7 linked regions of the Homo sapiens genome follow. The protein of the gene in region 6 interacts with the protein of the main gene of each other region in a pairwise test. Each region holds a gene or a part of one and is shown on either strand. Other genes may lie near its edges. The genes, in order: SMAGP, TM4SF4, NSG1, CLDN8, FLNA, OPRM1 and TMEM236.

The links.
Region 1: the proteins of OPRM1 (region 6) and SMAGP interact in binary tests that used the Homo sapiens proteins (3 or more experiments, as listed by UniProt).
Region 2: the proteins of OPRM1 (region 6) and TM4SF4 interact in binary tests that used the Homo sapiens proteins (3 or more experiments, as listed by UniProt).
Region 3: the proteins of OPRM1 (region 6) and NSG1 interact in binary tests that used the Homo sapiens proteins (3 or more experiments, as listed by UniProt).
Region 4: the proteins of OPRM1 (region 6) and CLDN8 interact in binary tests that used the Homo sapiens proteins (3 or more experiments, as listed by UniProt).
Region 5: the proteins of OPRM1 (region 6) and FLNA interact in binary tests that used the Homo sapiens proteins (3 or more experiments, as listed by UniProt).
Region 7: the proteins of OPRM1 (region 6) and TMEM236 interact in binary tests that used the Homo sapiens proteins (3 or more experiments, as listed by UniProt).

What each region holds. Positions count from the first base shown.
Region 1 is NC_000012.12:51,249,639-51,253,564, forward strand, and holds part of SMAGP (small cell adhesion glycoprotein), read right to left. Parts: intron 1-3,926. UniProt on the Homo sapiens protein: May play a role in epithelial cell-cell contacts. May play a role in tumor invasiveness and metastasis formation.
Region 2 is NC_000003.12:149,484,374-149,488,299, forward strand, and holds part of TM4SF4 (transmembrane 4 L6 family member 4), read left to right. Parts: intron 1-3,245; coding exon 3,246-3,382; intron 3,383-3,926. UniProt on the Homo sapiens protein: Regulates the adhesive and proliferative status of intestinal epithelial cells. Can mediate density-dependent cell proliferation.
Region 3 is NC_000004.12:4,410,769-4,414,694, forward strand, and holds part of NSG1 (neuronal vesicle trafficking-associated protein 1), read left to right. Parts: intron 1-3,926.
Region 4 is NC_000021.9:30,213,371-30,217,737, forward strand, and holds CLDN8 (claudin-8), read right to left. Parts: upstream 2,728-4,367; 5' UTR 2,556-2,727; coding exon 1,878-2,555; 3' UTR 636-1,877; downstream 1-635.
Region 5 is NC_000023.11:154,353,709-154,357,634, reverse strand, and holds part of FLNA (filamin-A), read left to right. Parts: intron 1-11; coding exon 12-201; intron 202-360; coding exon 361-384; intron 385-2,562; coding exon 2,563-2,810; intron 2,811-2,923; coding exon 2,924-3,019; intron 3,020-3,151; coding exon 3,152-3,254; intron 3,255-3,343; coding exon 3,344-3,484; intron 3,485-3,591; coding exon 3,592-3,720; intron 3,721-3,907; coding exon 3,908-3,926. UniProt on the Homo sapiens protein: Promotes orthogonal branching of actin filaments and links actin filaments to membrane glycoproteins. Anchors various transmembrane proteins to the actin cytoskeleton and serves as a scaffold for a wide range of cytoplasmic signaling proteins.
Region 6 is NC_000006.12:154,129,485-154,133,219, forward strand, and holds the end of OPRM1 (mu-type opioid receptor), read left to right. Parts: 3' UTR 1-2,872; downstream 2,873-3,735. UniProt on the Homo sapiens protein: Receptor for endogenous opioids such as beta-endorphin and endomorphin. Receptor for natural and synthetic opioids including morphine, heroin, DAMGO, fentanyl, etorphine, buprenorphin and methadone.
Region 7 is NC_000010.11:17,750,796-17,755,359, reverse strand, and holds the start of TMEM236 (transmembrane protein 236), read right to left. Parts: upstream 3,160-4,564; 5' UTR 3,065-3,159; coding exon 2,808-3,064; intron 1-2,807.

The sequences.
Region 1 (3,926 bases), on a different chromosome or scaffold from region 6:
ATGGAGTCTTGCTCCATTGCCCAGGCTGGAGTGCAGTGGCGCAATCTCGGCTCACTGCAACTTCCACCTCCTGGCTCAAGCGATTCTTCTGCCTCAGCCTCCTGAGTAGCTGGGATTACAGGTGTGTGCCACCATGCCCAGTTAATTTTTGTATTTTCAGTAGAGACAGGGTTTCACCATGTTGGCCAGGCTGGTCTCGAACTCCTGGCCTCGAGTGATCCACCTGCCTCGGCCTCCCAAAGTGCTGGGATTACAGGTGTGAGCCACTGTGCCTCGCCTATACATATGGATTCATTCATCCATTCTCATCTGTTACCCACAGGAACTATATTAACCAACATTGCAGTTCTATTATGAAGATTAAATGAGAGAACATGTAAACATCATATAGTAGCTACTACTTAAATATTATTTAAGGTGACTTTGTTAATATGCTTAGTGATTAAAAGGGCCAGGCATGGTGGCTCATGCCTGTAATCCCAGCACTTTGGGAGACCAAGGTGGGAAGATCGCTTGAGGCCAGGAGTTTGAGACCAGCCTGGGCAACACAGTAAGACTCTGTCTACAAAAAAAAAAAAAAAAAAAATGTAAAAATTAGCCAGGTGTGGTAATATGCGCCTGTAGTCCCAGATACTCATGAGGCTGAAGTGGGAAGATTGCTTGAGCCCAGGGGGTTAAGCCTGCAATGAGCCAGCACTGCATTACTGAATTGTTGGGCAACAGAGTAATGAGACCCTGTCTCAAAAAAATAAATTAATTAAAGGGAGAGTTGCTCTGGGTTTGAATCCTGCCTAAGCATATTACTAGGTGACCTTGAGGAAGTTACTAAACCTCTCTGAACCTGGTTGTTGTTGTTGTTGTGTTTTTTTTTTGTTTTTTTTTTGTTGTTGTTGTTGAGACAAGGATCTCACTATGTTGCTCAGGCTGGAGTGCAATGGTGCAATCTTGGCTCACTGCGGCCTCAACCTCCTGACCTCAAGCAATCTTCCTGCCTTGGCCTCCCAAAATGCTGGGATTATAAGCGTGTGCCACCACACCTGGCAGTACCTCAGTTTCTTGATTTGTGAAATGGGAGTGTGGTGTACAGCTTCTAAGATGGCTCACAATGATTTCTGCCTCCTGGTATTGACATCTTTGAGCATGCCTCTCCTCTGGTATATGGGTTGAACCTGGTGACTTGCTTTTAACAGATGATGGCAAAAATGATGGCATGTAACTTCTGAGATTAGGTTATACAACACTGTGACTCCCATCAAAGGGAAGCCCTGAAGTTTATCTACCTGGTCATGACTTCACACATTTCACCATGCACTTTCCTCCCCAAATCGCCCAGGGCTGCAATCCATCTTCCTACCATGGATCTAGAGTTCTATACAGTTGTTCCTAGTTTTGCTTTCTTTAAACATTTTGAGAATTTAGGATGTACAAAGCATTGAGAAGATTAATGTATATCAGAAGCTTGAAGATGAGTAATTTGTGTTCAATCATCAACAGTAACTTACTTTGTACATTAGGTTTAGTGTGGTAGCTCACGCCTGTAATCCCAACACTTTGGGAGGCGGAGGCAGGAGGATTGCTTGAGGCCAGGAGTTTGAGACTAATCTGGACAATATAGCAAGACACCATCTCTATTTGTTTTTTAAAAATAATATATGGAGGAGGCTGGGTGCAGTGGCTCACGCCTGTAATTCCAGCACCTTGGGAGGCCAAGGCAGGTGGATCGCTTGAGCCCAGGAGTTGGAGACCAGCCTGGGCAACATAGCCAGACTCCCATCTCTACAAAAAAAAAAAAAAAAAAAAAGTTAGCCAGACATGGTGGCACACACCTGTAGTCCCAGCTACTCGGTAAACTTGAGGTGAGAGGATCACTGGAGCCCAGGAGGTCCAGGCTGCAGTGAGCTGTGATTGTGCCACTGTACTCTAGTCTGGGTGACAGAGTGAGACCCTGTTTCAGAAAAAAAAAAAAAAAGAATAAAGGTGGGAGGAAACCAGATGATCACAATTAAATACAGACAGTTGTGCTACAAAGTGCTTCTTTAACATGAACTGGCTCACTGGTGATAGGTAACTTAAGGGAACGATGTCAGTGTAATGCAGAAGTCATGTTGGTTTATATGTGACTTCTTTATTTTTAGTTTATTTTCAGTTATCTATTCTTTAATTTTTTTAAATTGAGCAGCCCCTAGAACCAAAAGAGGTTCAGAGGACTCCCCACCCTCTTTAGCTTTAATGTTTAACATGATCAGAAGCAAGCTTTCTCACAACTAGAGAATATTTTAGCCATACAGGAAGACCTTAAGAAAAAAATTCTACAGAATGCCTTGCTGCGATGCAGCTATTGGTCAGTTTCCACTTATATGAAGCCATCTGGTGAAGCAGAAAGTGCAGATGAAGAAAGGTGCAAAGAAATTTACCTCAATATTTAAACGATGACAAGAAGGCAGACTCTACATCAGATTTTTTTTTTTTTTTCCAGACAGAGTCTCGCTCTGTCACCCAGGCTGGAGTGCAGTGGCGCGATGTTGGCTCACTGCAACCTCTGTCTCCCAGGTTCTAGCGATTCTCCTGCCTCAGCCTCCCGAGTAGCTGGGACTACAGGCGCATGTCACCACGCCCGGCTAATTTTTTGTATTTTTTAGTAGAGACGGGGTTTCACCATATTAGCCAGGATGGTCTTGATCTCCTGACCTCGTGATCTGCCCGCCTCGGCCTCCCAAAGTGCTGGGATTACAGGTATGAGCCACTGTGCCCGGCCTATTATTATTATTTTTGAGGCCAAGTCTCACTGTGTCACCCAGGCTGGAGTGCAGTGGCTTCATCTCGGCTCACTGCAACCTCCGCCCCCTGGGTTCAAGCAATTCTCCTGCCTCAGCCTCCCAAGTAGCTGGAATTACAGGCATGTGCCACCACACCCGGCTAATTTTTGTATTTTTTAGTAGAGACAGTTTTGCCATGTTGGCCAGGCTGGTCTCAGACTCCTGACCTCAGGTGATCCGCCCTCCTCAGCCTCCCAAAGTGTTGGGATTACAGGCGTGAGCCACATCGCCCCCCGAAGGACAATTTAAAAAGCATTATATTTGCAACAAGAACAAAGAAAAAGCTAGGCTTCTTTGGGCCTGAGGGGTCAGGTTGGAGGTAACAGAGAAAGCAGAATTCCCTCAGGCCTTTTCACCTCTGTTTCCTATCAAAGAGAATCATTTTTTTGCACTAAGGAGCAGTGGAGCCTTTGGGGACATGGGGGAAGTGAGCTCAAGAGAAGCAAAGAAACCCAGCAAGCACCAGACTAATCTAAAAGGGACCAGATATGACAGCCAAAGGCACTGCAAGAACTTGTAAATGGGATTTCTGTTGGTGACATAGGAGCTTCTGAGAAAGAGAAAGGGGTCGGGAACCTGAAGGGGCCATGGAAGGAAGGTGGAGTCCATAAAGCAATGGTGAGCTTGATGTGACTCCCCAGCAAAGTTCTAGAACACACTATTACGGCCTGTTTGGGGGGCTTTGAACTCGAAACAGCAAGCATTAGAAGTCAGAATGGGACTACTGAGAGCAAGCTGGGTCAGATAAGCTGCACAGCCTTCTTAGACTGAGATTCCAGGTTCCTAGACAGGGAAATTAAACAGTTAGTTCAACAAGAATTTACTGAGTGTGTACTCTGTGCCAGGCTCTGGGCTTCTATCAGTGAACAACACAGGCAAAAACCCTTACCTTTAAAGTTCCTGCCAGGATTAAACAGAATTACCCAGCAATCTCATTGCTGGGTGGGTATGATCCCGCAATCCCACTTCTAGGTATATACCCAAAAGAAATGAATGGACTTCAACTGATACTTGTATATCATGTTCATAGGAGCATTATGCAATAGCTAAATAAAAGGTGAAATAACCCAAATGTCCAACAGTAGATAAATGGATAAACAAAATGTGGTA
Region 2 (3,926 bases), on a different chromosome or scaffold from region 6:
TTTATTTATTTATTTATTTTATTTTTTTGAGATGGACTCTCGCTCTGTCACCCAGGCTGGAGTGTAGTGGTGCCATCTTGGCTCACTGCAACCTCTGCCTCTCGGGCTCAAGCGATTCTCCTGCCTCAGCCTCTTGAGTAACTGGGATTACAGGCATGGGCCACCACACCCCGCTAATTTTTTTTTTTTTTTTTTGGAGGCGGAGTCTCGTTCTGTTGCCCAGGCTGGAGTGCAGTAGCGTGATCTCAGCTCACTGCCACCTCCGCCTCCCGGGTTCAAGCAATTCTTCTGCCTTGGCCTCCCGAGTAACTGGGAAAATAGGCATGCACCACTGTGCCTGGCTAATTTTTATATATTTTTAATAGAGATGGGGTTTCACCATATTGGCCAGGCTGGTCTGGAACTCCTGACCTCGTGATCCACCAGCCTCGGCCCCGCAAAGTGCTGGGATTACAGTCGTGAGCCACCACGCTAGGCCTAGAATACCCTTTAAACTATAACAAGGCCTAGAATACCTTGTTAACTATAATATCCAGAACTAGGAACTATGGGTTCAACCTTTTTATAATAATTAATAAATATGTGTTAAGAAAAAATTTTTAACACAATTCTGTCATCTAACAATGATTGAGTTGTTTCTGACTGATGTCTTCTCTAGGCAGTACTTGGTTGTTCAAAATAAAGTGTTTGAGGAAATACATTATTACCTGATAGATGAAATAAGGACTCAACTCTAAGGTAATTCCTTCATTTCTGAGGAATAATGTGAGAGTGAATGATTTTCCTTATATTCCAGCATATGTAGTAGATTTCCTTCTCAGAAGTTTACACAAATTCATGTTTCATAAGTACTATATTTTTAGAAGTGCAGCAGGAATGAAACTTAGTTATGTAATCCAGCAATTCTCAAACTTATTCAACCTTACATCCTTTGGAAAAGAGATTGCCTGTTCTAACACGAGAAATTTACCAAAATGTTCACTTACTTCTGACCTAGGTTAAAGTCATGAATGTTCTGGATGCTGAGAGTGGATTTAGATACCCTAAACATAAACAATAAGGGGAAAAATCTAAACAATTAGTAATATGAAACCTTAGTCATTGAAAACATGCAACAAGTCATTATCCAGTGCCTTTGATAAGCTAGGAAGAAGGAAAACTGTAAAACTATGCTAAGTGTGGAAAAATGCCCTATCTTCAAATAACTTATTGTCTGTGACTTCAAGGAACTTGTGCTCTATTTGGAGAAGACAGCCATAAAAAGCTAAGCATTAGTTGGGCATGGTGGTGCATGCCTGTAGTCCTAGCTCCTTAGGAGACTGAGGTGGGAGGATCACTTGAGCCCAGGAAGTTGAGGCTGCAGTGAACCACGATTGCACCACTGCACTCAGCCTGGGTGACAGGGCAAGACCCTGTCTAAAAACAAAAACAAAAACAAAAACAAAAAAACCTATGCATTATTGTATTAGAGGCATTGTGCTGTGATAGAAATTTGTGCAATCTAGAGTACAGGGGTTGGAAGAGATGAAGAATGAAGGGTCAGTTCTACAAGGAGAGTCAGACAAAGCACATGAATAGAGCTTGGTATTAAAACGTTGCATCAATCAGATGAGTTGGCAAAAGAGTTAAATTTTCTATTAAAAAGACTTTTTTTAAAAGTTGCATCCAAAATACATTGATATATGATATGAAAATGAATCCCAGCTAAAGTAGAACTCCATTATTACATAGATTCCAATCACCCAGGCACGATCAGGTCCTCTTCACCTTCAAACCTTACCCCATCCCAGATATGTACTATGATAATATTGTTAATAACATGAAAGGGGAAAGGGAAAATAGCCGACATTTAGCTTAAGCTGCCACGTCTAATTTTCACAACAGATATTTAAGGTGGGCTCTATCATGCCCATTTTAAGATGATAAAACTAAGGCTCTGAGGACACATTCATTATGCAAAGTCATTACACAGAGAAGACTAGCAAAGCTGAGATATGAGCCTGGGTCTGGGTCTGCTGACTTTAAACCCTGTGCTTCGTCATCAAAGCAACAGAGGTGATCGTTTTCTGCCTCTTCTTCCAAAATTTTAAATGTTTTCATTCTACTTTCTAGTTACTGTCTAGAATGGATATTGCAAAAGTTCTTAACATCCTGGGCCTACATTTTTTCATCCGTAAGAGGGAGTTAACCTAGCTGGGTTCCAGGATTGCTTCTGCCTTTTGCAGTCAATAATTCTATTTTGATTTTATAATTGAAAACAAAATATGGTAGTCTAATCTGTTTTTCATTAATCTCCATCATAGAAAAATATTTAAAAGAATGGAATTTTTTGATTGTTTAACTTAAAGAAGAGAAAATGCTCCGAGGGTGGAAGGGGTGAGAGATGTCAAGGCAATCTTCAGATATTTTAAAGACTGATGCCAAATGGAAGACAGGTTAGACTTGATCTTTTTGGCCTCGAGGAACATAATGAGGGCCAATGAGGAGGGGTTCTAAACTTTTACTCTTTCTCATAAGTAGAACCTGCCTGTCACATGAGACATCACAGTGACTGGCCTTAGCAGGATAATTTGACCAGAAAACTTAAGATTACTGCCAGGCCAGGTGCGGTGACTCACATCTGTAATCCCAGCACTTTGGGAGGCCAAGGCAGGCGAATCAACTGAGGTCAATAGTTCAAGACCAGCCTAGCCAACATGGTGAAACCCTGTCTCTACTAAAAATACAAAAAAGTAGCCAGGCATGGTGGCGCACGCCTGTAACCCCAGCTACTCAGGAGGCTGAGGCAGGAGAATCCCCTGAACCTGGGAAGTGAAGGTTGCAGTGAGCTGAGATCACACCATTGCACTCCAGACTGAGCGACAAGGGTGAAACTCCGTCTCAAAAAAAAAGATTACGCCAATCCTAAGGTTCTTTGATTCTATAATAGATTGGCTTTATATATCAGCCCTGGGGAGGAGAGTTTATCTTTAACAAGGTTAAAAGGCCATGGCTCAAAGGTAACAGAACCAACACCTCTGTCATCAATGAAAAGGTGAAAAAGAAATGGAAATGGGAGTGAAGAAGGGAAAAGAAGACACCAAAATTCATTCTAGAAGACCCCACAGGCCCCATCTACTATAAAGACTAGCTCCTACTCCATAACTTCTTGTAGTCACCATGTTCAACAGCAGGTGGATTAGGTTTGTTGAGTGTATCCTCTGGACCACCTGGAGAATGTGACTGTCTCTCTTCCTCTCTTTCAGATGTTCACCTCCACGATATTTGCTGTGGTTGGATTCTTGGGAGCTGGATACTCGTTTATCATCTCAGCCATTTCAATCAACAAGGGTCCTAAATGCCTCATGGCCAATAGTACATGGGGCTACCCCTTCCACGACGGGTAAGGCCACACCCTGCAATGCCCACCTGTCACCACAAGGGGCATGGGCAGATAAATTGCCCAAGGGGAGACTGCACACAATGCCATGTCTTCATCCTTATGCAAGCCTCAGGCTCGGTGCTCCTTTGAGGCAGAGATGGAGTTGTGGAATACAGCAAAGTTGCATAGGCTCTCACCTCTAATTGCTCCTTTGACAGACCCCAGGAGAAATAACTAAAAGAGGACGGATGCCTCCTTTGGCCTGAGGGAAGGAAGAGATTTGTTGTGTCATCACTTGCACCCAAATATTTATTAGCAGCAACACAAGGCAACTAATAATATTAATAAACAGAGTAATAGTTTTCATTACAAATCTCATAATAGAAAACAAGAATAATTAACCACTAACTGGGCCCAAGGGCTTTCATTAATACCCCAAATTGCCTATAATTAAACAATCATTTAAGTGCAAATGTACAGAAAATGACATTGAAATCATTGTAGGTTTCTCATGTTAATGTTAATAGACTCATTAAAATAACATTTCATGTTTTCATGGTACTTT
Region 3 (3,926 bases), on a different chromosome or scaffold from region 6:
GCGCTGGACATGTGGGCTACACTCCATTCATAACATACTCTTTCTTCAGTAATAAATTAACCTGAGCTCACTGTAACCTTTTTACTTCATAAACTTTTTGTGTGTGTGTGATGGAGTCTCACTCTGTTGCCCAGGCTGGAGCGCAATGGTGCGTTCTTGACTCACTGCAACATCTGCCTCCCGGGTTCAAGCGATTCTTCTGCCTCAGTCTCCTGAGTAGCTGGGATTATAGGTGTGCGCCACCACCCGGCTAATTTTTGTATTTTTAGTAGAGACAGGGTTTCACCATGTTGGCTAGGCCGGTCTCGAACTCCTGACCTCAGGTGATCCACCCACCTCGGCCTCCCAAAGTGCTGAGATTACAGGCGTGAGCCACCACACTCAGCCAATAAACTTTTAAAATGTAAGTTTTTGACTCTTTTGTAATAACACTTAGCTTAAAGCTCAAACATCTTGCACAACTGTATATTATTTTTCTACATGTGCTTTTTCTATTAAAAAATTTTTTAATTCTTTTTTTACTTCCAACACATTTTTGTTAAAGCTAAGGACACAGACACACACATTAGCTAGGCCTGCACAGGGTCAGGATCCACAGTATCACCGCCTTCTGCCTCCACACCCTGTCCCACTGGAAGGTCTTCAGGAGCAGTGACAGGCACAGGGCTGTCATCTCTTAGGATAACAATGCCAGGCCAGGTGCAGTGGCTCACGCCTGTAATCCCAGCACTTTGGGAGGCCTAGGTGGGTGGATCACCTGAGGTCAGGAGTTCAAGACCAGTCTGGCCAACATGGTGAAACACCGTCTCTACTAAAAATACAAAAATTAGCCAGGCATGGTGGCGGGTGCCTGTAATCCCAGCTACTCAGGAGGCTGAGGCAGGAGAATCGCTTGAACCCAGAAGGCGGAGGTTGCAGTGAGCTGAGATCATGCCACTGCACTCCAGCCTGGGCAACAGAGGGAGACTCCGTCTAAAAACAAAACAAAACAAAACAAAACAAAACAAAACAAAACAAAACAAAACATTGCCTTCTTCCAGAATCTCTCTTGGAGGAGCTCCCTGAAGCTCTTTTAGAGTTAACTTTTTTTTTTTAATAACTAGGCATGCACTCTAAAATACTGATTAAAAAGTATAGTACGGTAACATAAACAAGTAACATACGCGTTTATTGTCACTGTCAAGTATTATGTTCTGTATGTAATTGTATGTGCAAGACGTTTATACAGCTGACAGTGCAGGGGGTGTGTGTATACCAGCACCTCCGCAAAGTGAGGAGTGTGTTGTGTTCCGTCTACACGGTGGCTGCGAGGTCACCAGGCGACAGGAGGTTTCAGCTCCGTGACAGTCTTATGGGGCCACCATGGCATGTGGTCCATCGTTGACCCAAATGCTGTTATGCCGCGTGTGGCTGTAAAACGCACTTGCTGGTTCCCCACAGGGAGGAGGGGGTGGCTAAAACTGCCTTCCCTATCCTGCAAGCCCAAGTCCCGCTGGATACCTGGCCTGGGTGGGAGATGACCCAGGAGATGAAGCCCCAGTCCTGTGTCCGGCTGCAGATGAGACTGGCGGCCACAATGGAAGGGGCCTGGCACCTTTTGTTTAAAAGGCGCTCCAGGTGATTCCCATCCACAGCCAGCCTTGGGAATTGAGAGTCCCCTGATAAGTTGTTCTGGAGTGATGTCCTGTGGGACTTTGGCATTTTCCACTAGCATCTAATGAGGGGGTGTCCTTTCCGGAGAAGGCACCTAGGAAGGCCAGGGAGCTGCTGGTCTGTATCCAGCTGCCCTTGGCCAAAGCTGGAGAAAGGAGAGGCGTGAGCTCATGAAGTCCCCTTGACCTCCTCCCTCCATATTTGTGCGTGTGTTTGTCACACACCAACGCTAGGCAGCTTGTGTGGGGCTTTTACACCTGTTGCTCACGGAATCCATACACTCGGTAGCTGTGGGCTCCCGTTATCCATACACTCAGTAGCTGGCTCTGAACTTCCCAGAGTCAGTGTGAGATGCTCATCTCCAGGGCTTGGCACTGCTGAGATTAAAATAAAGCAGGAGAAGCCAACTGTTTCTAGCACTGAGCACGTGCACAGGGAAGCCTGGCTTGGCAGCTGTCACTGGGTAGCTTGGGTTTGGGTTTCATTTAGGTTTTGTTTTTTGCTGATATGAGGACGCAGAGAGTCCTTACGCGATTAGCAGGAAAGGCTGGAATTCACGTTGTCCAGCCCAAGTCCCTTTTTCTCCTTGCACATCATGCTGTCCTTCAGGCTCCCGACATTCAGCTCTTCCTCCCTTGGGCAGGCATGTACATGGCACCCACCCCGTGCCAGCAGCTCTTGCTATTGTTCTAGGCGCTGGAACACAGCCGAGAGCCAGTCAGGTACAGCCCCCTGCCTTCACGAGGCTCTTACATTCTCAAATGAACGGTGAGGAAGTCAGTCGTACACTGAATGTGAAGGCTATAGACAGACAGGAAAGAGGGCCCAGGGGTTGGGCATGGGCATGTGGGCGGTAGTTTCTAGAAGGATGGTCCACATTGGAGGAGCGGGTCTCCAGGAGGTGAGCCAGGGAGCTTGCGGGTCTTGGGGGAGTGTGCCCAGCCAAGGAAAGCCCCCACCCTTTCACTCATGTTTTATTCAGCAAGCCCCGTCCACGCCCTAGGCTGGGGCTGGGAGAGTTTGAGTCTGTTTTGGAGGCTGAGAGGACACCAGGGCTTTACAACAAGCAGAAGCGGAGGGTGCGGGCTTCAGGGAACGAGGGCAGTGCTGGCCCTGACCCAGTGGGAAGGGGTTTGTGATGGTAGAGGAGCACAGAGGGAGCAGCGGGCAGTGGGGACGTGCTGGTGGGGGTGTGCTGGTGGGGGGCTAGCCACAGGCACAGGGAGGCGGCAGAGGATGAACCAGCTTACGGCCAGAGCGGGTGCATCCTGAGTGCCAGGCACAGGCCCCTGGAGGAGGGGGAAGTGATAGGGTGACCTCTTGGGTCACCTGGGGAGGCTGGAGATTGGAAGGGAGAGACGGGGCAGTGAGATGACCAAGGAGACTGCTGCAGTGGCTGAGGGAAGAGAAGACTGGGGCGCTGGGGATGGAGGGGAGACTGCAGACTGGAGAACTGATTTAATCTGGGAGGCAGAGGGGTAAAAGGAAAGGGCCTGGTGCAGAGCTAGTTACTGAGGGAGGCCGATGTCATGGAGAGGGAGCACGGGCAGGCCCAGGAGCTGGCCCTGAGCCGGAGAGAGGACAGCAGAGGACAGCTTCCTGGGGGCCGGAAGTCCCCACCGAAACTGGCTACTTACAAATAACTGAGGCCAGTGGCTTCACCAGCTGCCCTGGAGCTTCCTTCCTGGCTCATCCTCTCTGAGCCTGGAGCAGGTTCCCCACAGGGAGGAGGGGGTGGCTAAAACTGCCTTCCCTATCCTGCAAGCCCAAGTCCCGCTGGATACCTGGCCTGGGTGGGAGATGACCCAGGAGATGAAGCCCCAGTCCTGTGTCCGGCTGCAGATGAGACTGGCGGCCACAATGGAAGGGGCCTGGCACCTTTTGTTTAAAAGGCGCTCCAGGTGATTCCCATCCACAGCCAGCCTTGGGAATTGAGAGTCCCCTGATAAGTTGTTCTGGAGTGATGTCCTGTGGGACTTTGGCATTTTCCACTAGCATCTAATGAGGGGGTGTCCTTTCCGGAGAAGGCACCTAGGAAGGCCAGGGAGCTGCTGGTCTGTATCCAGCTGCCCTTGGCCGAAGCTGGAGAAAGGAGAGGCATGAGCTCATGAAGTCCCCTTGACCTCTTCCCTCCATATTTGTGCGTGTGTTTGTCACACACCAACGCTAGGCAGCTTGTGTGGGACTTTTACACCTGTTGCTCACAGAATGCATCCAGAAGCCCTTTGAGGTGGATGCTGTTATATCCCCATTTTACCAGTGGTTAGAGGGTG
Region 4 (4,367 bases), on a different chromosome or scaffold from region 6:
TCATTTTAACATATAAAAATTCGTGTTTAAACTAGACATTGCTGAAAAAATAATTCACTTTCCTTGAGAGAAAGAGTGTTGAGCTATGAGTCCAGGCAGCCTTTTTATAAATCTCCTGATTCTATTGAGTAATCAATGAATTGTTCTGAGATAGCCTCATCTTTGAATTGAACTAATAACATTATCAGTCTCATAAAAGATTTAATAACAATTCATATAAGCAGTAGAGGTCCTAGCATGTAATACATGCCCCCAGAACATTAGACAATATTATTTATTATTTCTCAGAAGTAGAAATATATATTTAGCTACAGAAAATTTTTCAAACCTGGCTGTTATATACATAATATTTATAACATATAGATTTGCTTGAATTTATAGTACTATCTTAAATTATAAATATATTATCTGCATTGAATATTGGTATAGGGATCCAATGATTATAAGGTATATTGTTGTTAAATAACATAAATAACATAGAGTACTTTATATTTTCAAAAATTAATGCACTGTTTGTCTTTACAAGGCAAATCTTGACATTCTTTCTCAATTTGGAGAATAAAAAATTATCAGGCTTTTCAACATTCTTCTACAAGTTAATAAAACAGAAACAAAAGGAGACTTGTGAAAGAATGTCAAATAATTAGAAAAATGTACAATTTATTAATATAAATGTATAAAGCAAATAGAACACATTCATTTAAGCTAGACAGACGTCGACACAAACTTTCAAATTGGATTGTCAGTTTCATCAAATTTGGAATAAACAGAAAAATACAGTATTTACAGATTTTAGTAAAACTAAACAGAAATGGTACAAGAAGGAAATTTATTTTTCACAGAACAAAAATGACAATTTTGACTCAGGTACCCACATAGGAGCAGGTGAAGTTCTCAAAGGACAACTTTTTTTGTTGTTGTTTTTTTGGTAAGCAAATGAAAACCAAGACATATTTTTCTGCTCTTTTATTTATATTGATGAAACCTCAAAGTCTGTACTCAAATACTTATTAAAATATATCCATACATATATGATTTCTTGTCAAAATGCATCATTCTTCTTCAAATACAAAAACAAAAATATTTTCACTTTCCTAAAACCATCACTTTTTCTTAGATCACACTTTTATCTTTCTTCTGAGTATAGCCCTGGAAAAGCAGTTTGAATGCAAAGCCCCTTGACAAAATATCTGCTTTTTAAAAATGTTAATTTAATACACAAGAAAAAAAAAGCCTCTGGGAGAAGAGGATAAAGAAGTTAGGATTTCTAACTCCTAGGCTAAAAAACAGCATATCAGAAAGCCATTCAATTTCCTTTACAATGCTGATTAAAGCCTTCATTTTAATCTTCATTATAAATGGAGGACATTAATCCCTAAGCTGTTTTTAAACAATTAATAGTAACCTTCTTCAACCCTATCCATGATTTCCCTGAAAAGCAATAGTTGAGTTCTATTTATTCAGTGTAATGGACTGGCATTTCATTTTAAATAAAACCATATAAGCATGTCTCTATGTGAGATATAAATGTTACACTCATCTATGTACATAATGCTATGTCGTGGAGAAATTACAGTAGTAAAATAATGCAGTCTTTAGCAATGTCATTTTGAAGTAAATGATAAAAAGAGTAGATGCTTGAACCACCTTAGAAAACAAATTACTATACTTTCTAGAACAATCAAAGCATTGGGTTTAATATCTCATTCTGCTGAAATAGCTTATAGAATCATAAATAGCTGATGCACAGTTCCTGTAATTAAGATTAGGCAGTTAAGAACAGTAAATCAAAGTTTCTTTGGGGTCCATTTTGAGAAAGTAATATAGATTTTTGTCATTTGCATGGCTTTATAGTAAAGTTAAAAAAACATACACAACTACACATACTGACTTCTGGAGTAGACGCTCGGTGACTTCTTTCCGGTGTGATAACTTTTTTGGGTTGTGCGATGGGAAGGTATCGAGTATCTGTAGCTACTGCTCTTTTCGTTGCAACAAAAAACGCAGCAGAACAGAGCTCCTCCAACAATCAGCACCAGTGCCGTGGTCCATCCTAAGTAGAGAGCTTCTCCAAGCTCACGTTTTTGGGCAACATTCACTATTGAGTTATAGAAATCTCTGATGATGGCATTGGCAACCCAGCTCACAGGGATGAGCACCACCATGCCCGTGATGATGAAGATGATTCCAGCCGTCAGCAGAATGTGAGCCTTCACCTTCTCATTGTCCCCCGTGCACCTGGTGCATTTCATGCCAAGGATGGCCATCATGAAAGCCAAGAAGGACATCACGGAAGCAGCACACATCAGTCCTCTGGCTGCCTGTAGGTCCGGAGAAAGAGCCAGCAGGGAATCATAGATTTTGCACTGCATCCTGATGTTAGCCTGCCTCACGCAATTCATCCACAGTCCTTCCCAGAAGTTTTCAAAAACCACGATGTTGTTTTCAATGAAGGCCGACACTCTCCACTGAGGCATGACAGTGACAGCCACTGTGCCCACCATTCCAACACCACCAAGAAACAGCCCAGCGATTTCTAAGGCATGGGTTGCCATTATCCTCTGGGATGAGTTTTAGCCAGCTGGACTCCGGAACTGCTACTTCTGCTTTGAAGCAGGGTTCTCTGTGCCACAGAAGAGAACAGTTTTTCCTGTAGTAATGAACTCGGAACCCAGTGGTTTTTCAAATAAGAGCTGCTTTGCTACTTCTGGCCAGATAGTATCCAGTGCTGGCTGGCTGAGATGGCCCTGCTATTGGCTGCAACAGGTAAACTTACAAATCAGGTGTGGCAACTTTCTCAGCCAATAAAAGGTGGATGGTAATCCAGGTGTGTCTAAACCAACACTTGGGTACTTGGAACAGCTAGACCTGCACATAAACATTCTTTATACTTCTCGGTCTTCCAAGAAGACAGCAGTATGTTTACCTGTAGGCATAGTTATAAGTGGTTGCATAAGCATCAAGAAATGAGCCGATCCCTTGTAATGTGAAAGGTGCACCTTGTACAGGCAATTCTGAAACTCTTAATAAGAGCTGCTGGGACCAAGGGATAAAATAAATTATCTGCCGAAGAATTCTGCAACGCTGTTGAAATGCCAAAGTGAAACGAGAGTAGGGGATTGAAAGATTGCTTTTACCTGGGAAGCCACATTCTTTGGGACACATGTGATCCAAGTGATTGATTTAATTTTTCTACAACTTCAAAGCAAGCTCTACTGTGGTGAAATCAGGGAACAGATCATGCCAGAGGACAAAATAAGCTAAAGTAATTAAATACACAAGGCTGTCCTTCTCCTTGGCACTGAAAACATATTGGAGTTCTTTAAGCCAGAAAAAATACTCATTGACACTTTTCTGATAATCTTCACTTATAAAAACATTTTTTGCCAAAATAAAAATCACCAGATGATTATCTTATGTATCCAGCACTATAGCATTAAAATAAGCTTATGAGCTTATTTTGTGGTGTTATTCTTGCTGCTTTGAATTCCTGGGCTGAAGGAACTAGAATTCTGAAGATGACACAAGACCCTTGGGCCTATACAAATGGCTGATATTTCAAAATAAGATATTTACAAGACAAGGGAACTATATTTACCAAACTGTATTATATTAGGTATTAACCAAATATGTTTTCCTACCTTTTAATATTATGTCTGCAGTAGGACATAGAAACCCCTAAACGCAAGACAATTTGAACTTTCTTCTCAAAATAATGATGCTCTAACAGTAGTGCTATACTAAGCATAAATGTTTATCTGAGAAAATTCGACTAGCAATTTTCTTCTGGAGATCACCTTAAGCTCTCTGTCTGATCTTTCCAAAGTTTAAGCTGCCACTTCATTTTCTTTTCTTCTTAACATCATAAAAAATGATTTTCTCTTTACAGTTTTACTTTCTCTCTGTTTCATTGGACTACCTTAAATCCAAATATGGGAGAAAATCGTTTCTGCTCACTGATTAAACTTTGAGAGTTTCATGGTTCAAAAAATCTGAGTCATTTGTGGATATTATTAAAACAAAAACTATATGGTAGAAAGGGCAAAAGGAGGATCAAGTAGACTGTCTTCTAAAAAAGAGGCAGGACAGACGCACAGTAGTATGAGTTGTTATAATTTTGTTAAACAGACGTTATAAACCTTATAAAAAGTTAAAACTTAATATTTACAGAAATATTCTCATTTGTTGACCTGTGAGGTGCCAAACTTCAGGGTGTCCCTTAGGCTGATGCAGAAAATATGCAGCATTTGGCCGGGGCGGTGGCTCACGCCTGTAATCCCAGCACTTTGGGAGGCCGAGACGGGCAGATCAAGAGGTCAAGAGATCGAGACCATCCTGGCTAACACGGTGAAACCCCGTCTCTACTA
Region 5 (3,926 bases), on a different chromosome or scaffold from region 6:
CTGCCACACAGGATCCCGAAGGCAAGCCGAAGAAGACACACATCCAAGACAACCATGACGGCACGTATACAGTGGCCTACGTGCCAGACGTGACAGGTCGCTACACCATCCTCATCAAGTACGGTGGTGACGAGATCCCCTTCTCCCCGTACCGCGTGCGTGCCGTGCCCACCGGGGACGCCAGCAAGTGCACTGTCACAGGTGAGCCCGCCCGCTGTTGGCCGCTGCGGCGCTCGGCACGGGGCTTGGGTTGTGCCTGTGTGCAAGGGCTCGCTGCTTGGGGCGGCGTGTGGGAGTGGGGGCCGCCCCCTTGAGTGACTCACCTGACCTTTCTCCTTGCTCTCTGCCCTCTCACCTCAGTGTCAATCGGAGGTCACGGGCTAGGTAAGCTGCTTGCTGGGGCCACTCCCAATGCCCCTCCTGCCCAGAGGGGCAGCTTCCTTTCCTCTTGGGGCCGATTCCCAGGACAGTTCCAGCTGCAGCTCTAGGCAGGGACAGAGTTGGGTGGGGTGCAGAAGATGAGGCCGTGGGCTGGAGGGCGAGGGCCCAGGGAGGCTTCCGGAGCTGAGCATGACCGCTCCAGCTCTTCCCCTCTCTGGGCCTTTATTTCCCCATCTGAGAACTCGGGTTGCAGCTGAGAGCTTTGGGGTGAGGTGCATCCTGAGAGGCACCCCACTGGGGACTTTGGGGTCTCGGGATCTTGGCACCCAGGGAGGCACAAGGGCTCCTGCGTGGGCTGAGGGAACAAGGGGTCTCCCCAACTCAATGGGAGCCCCAGCCCTGGCCAGATCCACAGACCCCCATCCCCACCTTCCAGGGGCCTCTGCGTCCCGGGCCGGGGGAGGTGCATGAGCGGGTGGGGCTGGCTGGTAGTGCAGTAGCGCCAGTGTCGACTGCTTGGGCGGCCAGCATGGCGGGGCCCGGCCCAGCCTCAGAGCCCCAAAGTGCATTCTGTGGCCCGTCTCCCTCCTTCCCCCTTCCCCTATCCCCCAGCAGTGACGTTATTCAGACATTCCCCAACAGGCATGGAGGGTCACCTGCCCCAGCCAGGGACACCCAGGGATGCTGATGAGAGGCTACAGGCCTGGCACTTGGGCGAGGTGGCTAAGGAAAGGGTGAGAGGGTGGCTAGAGTTTTGCGGCAGGAGCGAGATGGCTTTATAGAGCAGGCCGTAGGATCCGATGTGTGTGTGACAGGCGTGTGTGCGCAGGGCGGGGGAGGCTGGGGAGTACTGATTGCAGGGCCTTGGGGGCTTTGAGGGTGGGAGCAAGACTCAGTAACCTCAGTTTCCCTGGCTACTGTTTGCAGAATGGAGACAGGGAGCCCGGGGTGGGGAAGGGGGCGCTGAAGTTGCTCTCTGGCAAGCTTGACGGCCACGGGGCTTCAGTGAGAGCCAAATTAGGAGGCATACTTTGAGGATGGAGTGGCTGAGACCTGCGGTTGGCTGGGAGCCGGGCAGGGAAAGTGGGGGCAGTCGGGTACCTGTGAGGTTGGGGCCCAAGCCACTAACTAGATGGCATGGGGTGCACATGAGTGAAGCCTCCCAGGGCAGCGTGGGCAGCCGGCAGCCAGGTCTGGAGCCTGGGAGAGCTGCCTGGCCGCGGCAGGCCAGCATGGAGCCTAGTGCAGCAGGAGCCCTCGGCCGATAGTGGGACTTGGTGGCAGGGCCCCTCGAGCTTGGCCTTCAAGTAGGTTTCGTGCTCCTGGCTGCTTCCCTGGCAGGAGGCCAGGCTGCAGGGGGCACTCTCACTGCCAGGCCTCACAGCCCACAGCCCCCCAAGCCTCCACGGCGGAGACCCAGATCATAACGTCACTGTCTCTCCCCTTTCCTCGGGCACTCTGGGGCCCTGGAGCCTGCTCAGCTGCTCTGCCCTCGCAACCCAGCAGTGGTGGCTGTAGCTTGGGCCTCCTGTTCCCTGTCTCCCTGGGTGCTATCCCCGCTCTGCCAAGCCTGCTGCGCTGCGCTACTCGGGTGCTAACCCCGCTGCCTCCCGCTTCCCCGCTCCCACTCCTGTCTGCACCGGGCTGCTTTTCACCGCGAGCCTTCTCAGTTGTCAGGAAACTCCGGTTTCACCATCAGGCCTGGGGGGTGGGGAGGCAAGTGTCACATCCCCCCACGCTGCAGCAGGACTCCGCCTCACCGCGTCCACACACAGCAATGGGGGCCGGGGCCAGGCCAGAAGGGCGCAGGCAGCCGTGTGCCCAGCCAGATGCTGGCGTTCAGCAGTGTGGGCCATGGTGCTGGACGAGGCTGAGTAGGCAAGGGAGTGGCTGTCAACACTTAGGCTGGAGTGGGCCCTTCCTTTTCCTCCCAGGCACCTGGGTGCTACTGTCGGGCCTCTCCCACATGGGCACTTGAGGTGGTCAGGAGAAACCTTCCTGCCTTCTGAGAAACCACTCGCCATCCCAGCTTGGAGGGGCAGGGCGGGGCAGGAGGCCTGGCGGCCTGGCTGTGCTTGGTGGTGGCAATGAGAGGCCTGTGTGGGCGGCAGGCGGACGGGAACAACCTGAACCCGAGCTCACACGCTGGCCCCCCTTTGGGGACCCACCCTGCCCCACCAGGTGCTGGCATCGGCCCCACCATTCAGATTGGGGAGGAGACGGTGATCACTGTGGACACTAAGGCGGCAGGCAAAGGCAAAGTGACGTGCACCGTGTGCACGCCTGATGGCTCAGAGGTGGATGTGGACGTGGTGGAGAATGAGGACGGCACTTTCGACATCTTCTACACGGCCCCCCAGCCGGGCAAATACGTCATCTGTGTGCGCTTTGGTGGCGAGCACGTGCCCAACAGCCCCTTCCAAGTGACGGTGAGGAGGGGTGGGGGGTAGGTCAGCAGGGGTGTCTGGCAGGTCCCGGCCTGTTCCCCTGGGGCCCCTCTGTGACAACAGACTCTCCAGCAGCTCTCTGCTTTGCCCTGCAGGCTCTGGCTGGGGACCAGCCCTCGGTGCAGCCCCCTCTACGGTCTCAGCAGCTGGCCCCACAGTACACCTACGCCCAGGGCGGCCAGCAGACTTGGGTACGGCCTGGCCAGCTAGGGACACTGGGGCTAGCCAGCTGGGTGTTCTGTGAGCCCCTAGTTTACCATGTGTGAGGAGGGACCCCAGATCCTCCCACTGTCCCTCACCCATGCCCTGTGTCTCCACTGCAGGCCCCGGAGAGGCCCCTGGTGGGTGTCAATGGGCTGGATGTGACCAGCCTGAGGCCCTTTGACCTTGTCATCCCCTTCACCATCAAGAAGGGCGAGATCACAGGTGAGTGGGGACTTGGGAAGGAGCTCGGGAGCCAAGGAGGCCAGACTGTGCCAATGAGCTGCCCTGACCTCAGCCCCACTGCCCCACAGGGGAGGTTCGGATGCCCTCAGGCAAGGTGGCGCAGCCCACCATCACTGACAACAAAGACGGCACCGTGACCGTGCGGTATGCACCCAGCGAGGCTGGCCTGCACGAGATGGACATCCGCTATGACAACATGCACATCCCAGGTGGGCCTGCCCTGCCTCTGCCCACTCCACCGCCACCACCTCACAGAGAGATGGGGCTGGGGGACACACGAGGCTGCCATTCCACAAGGCCCTTCTTCCTGCCTCAGGAAGCCCCTTGCAGTTCTATGTGGATTACGTCAACTGTGGCCATGTCACTGCCTATGGGCCTGGCCTCACCCATGGAGTAGTGAACAAGCCTGCCACCTTCACCGTCAACACCAAGGATGCAGGAGAGGGTGAGCAATAGCTCTGGTCTTGACCTGCTCTGTGCCCGGGATGCCCTCACCGGGGTAAGGGCTGGACTCAGGAGATACTCCTGAATGGGGCTCCCTGCCCTGCTGCCCTGGCCATCGGAGCTCCTCAGTGCAGGCCAACTGGAGTGTCCCCAGCATAGTTCCCATGCTCACCCACGGCTCTCTCCAGGGGGCCTGTCTCTGGCCAT
Region 6 (3,735 bases):
TTTCTCTCCTCTCAATGTCAACATCATATATGATTGGAGACTTCCACATAATTGAGTTTTAGTGCCCACTGTTACAGAAAATCATAATGGAAAAACTAAAATGTCAATAATAATTTCAGATGTGTATTTTAGTTCTCATAAGAACATCTACATTCATTTGAAAAATAGTTCTATATCTATTCTTGAAACATATTTCTTTAGTTCAAGGTCTGATGAGCTCCCAGACTGTTGGGGATTGCTCTACAGCTGCTCAAGCTTTTGAAGACTCCTGTGATTTTTTTAAATGGCTGGTTTGGTTGAAGTTTCTCTTATCAGTCAGGCACTTTGCATTTTAAGCGTACTTTACCACCGACACCCTCCCCCCCCAGCACACACACACACACACACACACACACACACACAACATAGTGAAATGGACCCGTGGGAATTATATGATAGTTGTAATCAAAATAAAATGCAATCAATACTAAAATACAATTTACCAAAGGCTTACCTCCTTATTTGAAACTCCAGCATCAATAATTTACTTGCACTCTTGTTATTTACATTTGTACTCTGGAAGTAAACTTAAAATGAAAATTAGAATTTGCTTTCAATTATACTATCTCTATCTAAATCTTAATTTGAAATTTAAATTATTTTGTCTCTACCCAAACCATCGATTTCATGGAAATGTTTAAATTTTCTTTTTTTTTTTTTTTTTTGATGGAGTCTCACTCTGTCGCCCAGGCTGGAGTGCAGTGGCTCAATCTTGGCTCACTGCAACCTCTGCCTCCCGGGTTCACACCATTCTCCTGCTTCAGCCTCCTGAGTAGCTGGGACTACAGGTGCCCGCCACAACACCTGGCTAATTTTTTGTATTTTTAGTAGAGATGGGGTTTCACCACGTTAGCCAGGATGGTTTCGATCTCCTGACCTCGTGATCTGCCTGCCTCGGCCTCCCAAAGTGTTGGGATTACAGGTGTGAGCCACTGCGCCTGGCCAGAAATGTTTAAAATTTCATAAATCTTGAATCCATAAAATTCAATGCTACCATTTATAATTTAATACTCCTACCATAAAAATTTCTGTGTTAGGCATAGCTATATGAATATTTGCCTATAAATCCCCATCAATTTAATAGGAATTAAGTTAGAAATACTAGTATATATATTCCCTTTATATACTAATTGTATATCCATATAAAAGCATTAGTACCATTATATGAAAGTATATATGCCATTCCATAAAAATATATCTACCAATATAAATAGAATATATAAAGGGAATATATATATACCAATATAAATGGGAATTTATATTGGCACATACATTTCCATTATTTTAATGGGAATTAAAGAAAAAATGCCTGTTTTCACTAAGTCATCCTTCCCCTGGCAATACATTTCCTGAACTTTTACATACTTAAATAGCCAGTTATGAAAATGTAAAACAATGAGTGATCTTGTTGTTTTCATTTTATTATGTTATATGAAAAAAAGAAACCTTGTAAGTGCAGATTTATTTTAAAAAATTGAAAAACTACTCTGTCAAACATAGCAAATAGGAAAGTTAAAAAAAAGTAAGTCTAAAGATTAGGTGCTCTGTCACTTGTCATTACATTTTTTTATAACATTAATGACACATTTTTTGCTATCCAAATATAATTTCCACTAGAAAAGAAAAGATGTCCTCCATGTTTTAAATTGCATTTGAAATTCAGGTAACTAATAACCCTTGGTTTTAAAAGATACATATAATGTTTCCGTAGGAAAAAAATCAAAATATTGTAAAGAATCTGAGTAAATGAGAGCCTCTCATGGTTGATTAAGTTCAGACATTTTAAACAGACTCCTGCCCACAAACTATTTTTCCTCTCCAGGAATAAGAATGGCAACTGAATTGTTCCTTCTTTATTCTATAGCTTTAAGTCAAACCTAACATAAGCAATCAACCCTTCCACCCATTGTCCTCTTTCTAGCTGCTTATATTCCTGAGTCTGAAAGAAGGGCAGAATTAATTCGTTTCCTTGACAGTGTTGGGGGTGAAATAAAAGATAGACCCCTGCTGCTCTGCACGTAGATTCAGTTTGTATGCCAGGGTGACATTTTAATTTACAGTAGTCCAGACACCTAAACAGGACATAGAAATGTCAACTGGTCATATTAAAATAAAAAAGTATAGAATAGTTTCTGTTTTACGGATTTTGTATCCAAGTAAATGAAAACACAATCACCTTTCAAAACATGGTATGAAATCCACAGTTGTAACAGTGAGCACAACATGCTTTCTGTGTGTGTTTTTAAGCTCTTTCCCCACATCTGCTTTTCAAAAATATTTGCCTGGAAACCTGTATTTCGCCTATAGAGACAAATACATATATTGTTTGTTGTGATAATGCACAAAAAGGAATGTTAAAAAAAAACACACAACATTGTTTTCCTTTTGATGGTCTGGGAGTTTTTCTATAAGTTTTTGGTTTTTTTTTTTTTTTCTCTTCATTAGTGTGTTAGTTCCATCATCATGTCTGTTTACTATTGAAAAATAAATATCTTCATTTAAAGTAGAGACAAAGCTACTATTTCACATTTCCAGGTAGGACAGGATGATCAGATGCAGCTTTCAAAAGAACTACCTGCTAAATCATAATGGTCTCATGTGCAGATCAAAATGTCAACTAGTATATCAAACAGTGAGCAATTCACTAAATTATTTTTACATTACTCCTATTTGACTGTTTCAGATAGTTGTATATAAAAAATATAAATTTTTGCATTGTATTGTTCTTGATGTACCAGCATACATAAACATATTAGGCTGTATTGTAAGTTTCCTGCATGTAATATGTAATGTGTAATTATATGTGATAAATAAAACCTAAAACTGATACAAATCTAGATTTTCCCTTGTCTTTCTCATTCTGACATTACTGACCTGTTTTAAAAGAATATTCCCCAAGTAAATGTTGCGACGTAGGTAAATAGCCTAAGAATTAGAGTAACAGACAACTTTGATACTAAATAAATACTTCAAAATAAAGAAGTGAACTTTCTCTCTTCATGAATTATTTCTATTTTTAGAACCAAAATGTCTCTAAACCTTGACAACCATAACTTCCTAAGCTAGAATTCTAACCAAACCATACAGAGAAGAAAAATATCCACTGTAAAGTCTATAGTTGAAAATATAGGCAGCTAAATCCACTGATAGTCTACTTTTTTTAAAAATGTGTTCTTGATGTTTTGAGCAGGAAAATTATTTGCAAGAAACAAAGAGTTTGATAAGGTGAAATTCAGAGCATGCTCTGGGTTGTTAGGTACAATTTTTTGAAGTGGAAACGTCTCAACATGAAAACACTTTATGGTAAGAAAAAAACGGCTGGGCGTGGTGGCTCACGCCTGTAATCCCAGCACTTTGGGAGCCTGAGGTGGGTGGATCACGAAGTCAGGAGATCGAGACCATCCTGGCTAACACGGTGAAACCCCATCTCTACTAAAAATTCAAAAAATTAGCCGGGCATGGTGGCAGGCACCTGTAGCCCCAGCTACTCGGGAGGCTGAGGCAGGAGAATGGTGTGAACCCGGGAGGCGGAGCTTGCAGTGAGCCGAAATTGTGCCACTGCACTCCAGCCTGGGCGACAGAGTGAGACTCCATCTCAAAAAAAAAAAAAAAGAAAGAAAAAAACTATCTCAAAATAACATTGCATAACTTTAGATTGCCTATTGAAAAGAGTTATTTACAAGGGCCTTTTGAAAA
Region 7 (4,564 bases), on a different chromosome or scaffold from region 6:
ATTGCAGAGTCTATTATTTTTACATTTCTGCCCTTGCGTGGATGTGCAAATTCCCAGTGCCTCACTTTTCACATGTGTTCTATGTCATTCGCTTTCAAAATAAAACATCGGCCGGGAGCAGTGGCTTATGCCTATAATCCCAGCACTTTGGGAGGCCGAGGCAGGCAGATCACCTGAGGTCAGGAATTCAAGACCAGCATGGCCAACATGAAGAAACCCTGTCTCTATTAAAAATACAAAAAAAAAAAAAAACATTAGCCGGGAGTGGTGGCAGGACCCTGTAATCCCAGCAACTCAGGAGGCTGAGGCAGGATAATTGCTTGAACCCAGGAGGCGGAAGTTGCAGTGAGCTGAGATCGTGCCACTGCACTCCAGCCTGGACAATAAGAGTGAAACTCTGTCTCAAATAAATAAATAAATAAATAAATAAATAAAACATCAGTATGAAAGAAAAATTAGCTTATATTAACTTATTAAAGAAAAGAGAGAAGTCCAAGATGAGTAAGAATCAGATCTGAAGATCTAAAAGGAAAAATACATTAATATCAGAGACTATTTGTTCTCAATACCCTTATGTGGATCAGTATACCCATTAGCTAAACTGCTAGTTAAATTAACATTAAATCCTGATTTATTTAAAATATCTCTGTATTGTTATTGAAGTACTTTCCTCCCCTACAAGGGTAACAGAATTTACCAACACAGTAAATTATTTATTTTTAAAGTCTAAGTAGGCCAGCTTTGGCAGCTCACGCCTGTAATCTCAGCACTTTGGGAGGCCAAGACGGGTGGATTGTTTGAGCCCAGGAGTTTGGAACCAGCCTGAGCAATGTGGCAAAACCTCATCTTTATAAAAAACACAAAAAAAGTAGCCGGGTGTGGTGGTGTGCACCTGTAGTCCCAGCTACTCAGGAGGTCGAGGTAGGAGGATCACCTGAGCCCCCTGGGGAGGTTGAGGCTGCTGTGAGCAATGATCACGCCACTGCACTCCAACCTGGGCAACAGAGCCACACCCAGTCTCAAAATAAAAAATAAGTAAATAAAAAGTCTAAAGGAACCAGTTGTTTTAAAAGTCGTAGTTAATGGTCAAAGTATGACGTAAGCCTGCAAAATGCAATGTAAATAATTAAAAATAGACATTACTTTCAGTTTTACGCAAAATTAAAATTCTACATTACCATCTTCTGATTATGAGTTGTGTAAGCTCACTCCGATAAGTTTATGTAATTTAGTGTCCAGGAGAATTAAGTCCAACATTTACTACTTAGAATAGCATGAACTGGCACAAACTCCAGTCTTACTAACCCATCTCATGTGTTATTATCACTCAGTATAAATGACTGTAGAAAAATTAAGGAAGATACCATAATATCCATACATTCACAGAAGCAGTAATTGTAGCCTCCCATTAATGTCACATTCTATCCTTACGCTCTGCTCACATCCTTACCCACAGTATGTTAGAACATATCTTTCAGGAATACTTATACACTGTTAGTGGGAGTCTAAATTAGTTTAACCATTGTGGAAGACAGTGTGGTGATTCCTCAAAGACCTAAAGACAGAAATACCATTCGACTCAGCAATTTCAATACTGGGTATATACCCAAAGGAATATAAATCATTCTATTATACAGACACATGCACCCGTATGTTCGTTGCAGTACTATTCACAATGGCAAAGACAGGAAACCAACCTAAATGCCCATCAGTGATAGAATGGATAAAGAAAATGTGGCATATATACTTTATCGAATGCTATGCAATCATGAAAAAGAACAAGATCATGTCCTTTGCAGGGACATGGATGGAGCTGGAGGCCATTACTTTTAGCAAACTAACGCAGGAACAGAAAACCAAATCCCACATGTTCTCATTTATAAGTGGGAGCTAAATGATGAGAACACATGCACACACAGAGGGGAACAACACACACCGGGGCCTTCCAGAGGGTGAACGGTGGGAGGGAGAGGATCAGGAAAAACAACTAATAGGTACTAGGCTTAATACCTGGGTGATGAAATAATCTGTACGACAAATCCCCATGACACAAGTTAACCTATGTAACAAACCTGCACTTAAAAGTTAAAAGTCAAACAACAGACAAACAAACAAATATATCTTTGAAAGCATCACGGGGATTCCCTGCTAAGGAATTCTTTTACAGGCTGGGCGTGTTGGCTCACTCCTGTAATCCTAGCACTTTGGGAGGCCAAGATGGGTGGATCATTTGAGGTCAGGAGCTCGGGACCAGCCTGGCTAACATGAAAACCCCGTCTCTACTAAAAGTACAAAACTTAGCTGGGCATGGTGGTGCATGCCGGTGAAATAATCTGTACAACAAACCCCTAATGACACAAGTTAACTTATGTAACAAACCTGCGCTTTTACCCCTGAACTTTAAAGTTAAAACAAACAACAAACAAAAAAACAAACAAACAAACGTATCTTTGACAGCATCATGGGGATTCCCTACTAAAGAATTCTTCTACAGGCCGGGCATTGTGGCTTCTGCCTGTAATCCTAGTACTTTGGGAGGCTGAGGCAGGCAGATCACTTGAGGTCAGGAGTTCAAGACTAGCCTGGCCAACATGGCAAAAACCCGTCTCTACTAAAAATGCAAAAATAAGCCAGGTGTGGTGGTGTGCGACTGTAATCCCAGCTACTCAGGAGGCTGAGGCAGGAGAATCACTTGAACCCAGGAGGCGGACGTTGCAGTGAGCCAAGACTGCCCTACTGCACTCCAGCCTGGGTGACAGAGCGAGACTCCAAATCAAAAAGAAAAAAAAGAAAATTCTTTTACTTACCATCCTTTAATTTTTCTGTAAATATAACGTTTCTTGTGCAGGATAACTTTTACAGGAACCCAGATCAGTAGAGTCACTAACGCAACATAGGCAATAGAACAGGAGATGATCAGCCAGTAGTGTGTGTTGTCAGATCTAGCCCTTGTTCCTTGGTAGGCGGTGGCAAACTGTTCTGTGATCACGAGTGTGGGGATGGAGAAAGCGGCAAACTCTAGGAGCTCAAAAACCACGAACTTAATGAGCCTTCCAGAAGCCATCCTGAGGAAAAGCAAGCTGCCAAGAACCTGGGACTCCCTCTTTGACTGTGGGCAGCATATGGACCCACAGACACTGAACTGGGATCAAGTTCCTTGTCCTCGAATCGCTAACCAGTGACTTTTTATTCTTTTATTGACCCTCATATGGTTCAATGATCTCCTAACTTAACAACCGTGGTCTCTTAAAGGAACAGGACCATTGTGGAAGTGATCACTCAACATATTTGCACATCCATTATTAGAAGTCAAATGAACTTTAGAGCATGCCCGGGAGCATGGGTAAAAGCAGGGTTTTAAAAAGGTGTTTATTGCTAACGTTAGCACAAAACCATTTGTGTGATAGTCAATTCTTGTTAAGTAAAACTGCTGGAATAATATAATTTTAGAGTTAAAGGGGAATAGATAGAATCCAACCCTCTATTTTTACATAAAAGCAAATTCAGGCAAAGGGAGATACTCAAACCTAAGTCTTCATCTTGGAAAACCATCCCTCCCTTTCAAGTGCTTGAAAAGGGAGTTTGTATTCACTTTATCAACTCTCTAACCAGGATTCTCCCTAATACTTAAGATATTTATTCATTATTGTGCATTAGTTGCCATATAACACAAATTAATGTTATTTTTGTTTTGCTGCACAGGAAACTGAAATGGTGACATTAGAAGCCTGTTATCAAGATTTACACATTAACAGCTATCTGTGACTAGCTCAAATGCATATCAAATGTTTAAAGAATGACAATTGTCTCCATGAATATCCTTCCTTTGAAAAACATACTTGAGACCGGGCATGGTGGCTCACACCTGTAATCCCAGCACTTTGGGAGGCTGAAGCGGGCAGATCACCTGAGGTCAGGAGTTCGAGACCAGCCTGGCCAACATGGTGAAACCTCGTCTCTACTAAAAAATACAAAAATTAAGGCCAGGCACGGTGGCCCACACCCGTAATCCCAGCACTTTGGGAGGCTGAAGCAGGCAGATCACCTGAGGTCAGGAGTTCAAGATCAGCCTGACCAACATGGTGAAACCCCATCTGCACAAAAAACGAAAAAAATACAAAATTAGACGGGTGTGGTGGTGCATGCCTGTAATCCCAGCTACTTGGGAGGCTGAGGCACGAGAATCGCTTGAATCTGGGAGGTGCGGAGGTTGCAGTGAACCGAGATTGCACCATTACAATCTAGCCTGGGCAACAAGAGCGAAACTCCGTCTCAAAAAAAAAAAAAAAAAGCAAAAATTAGAGGGGCGTGGTGGCACATGCCTGTAATCCAGCTACTTGGGAGGCTAAGGCAGAAGAATCACTTCAACCAAGGAGGCTGAGGTTGCAGTGAGCTGAGATCATGCCACTGCACTCCAGCCTAGGCAACAGAGCAAGACACCTTCTCAAAAAAAAAAAAAAAAAAAAGAAAAGAAAAACATACTAGAGCACTTACAATGAGCATTTTAGTATGTGTTAGGGTGTGAAGATGAATGAATGACAGCAGTTCCTGTTCTGAAAGTGCT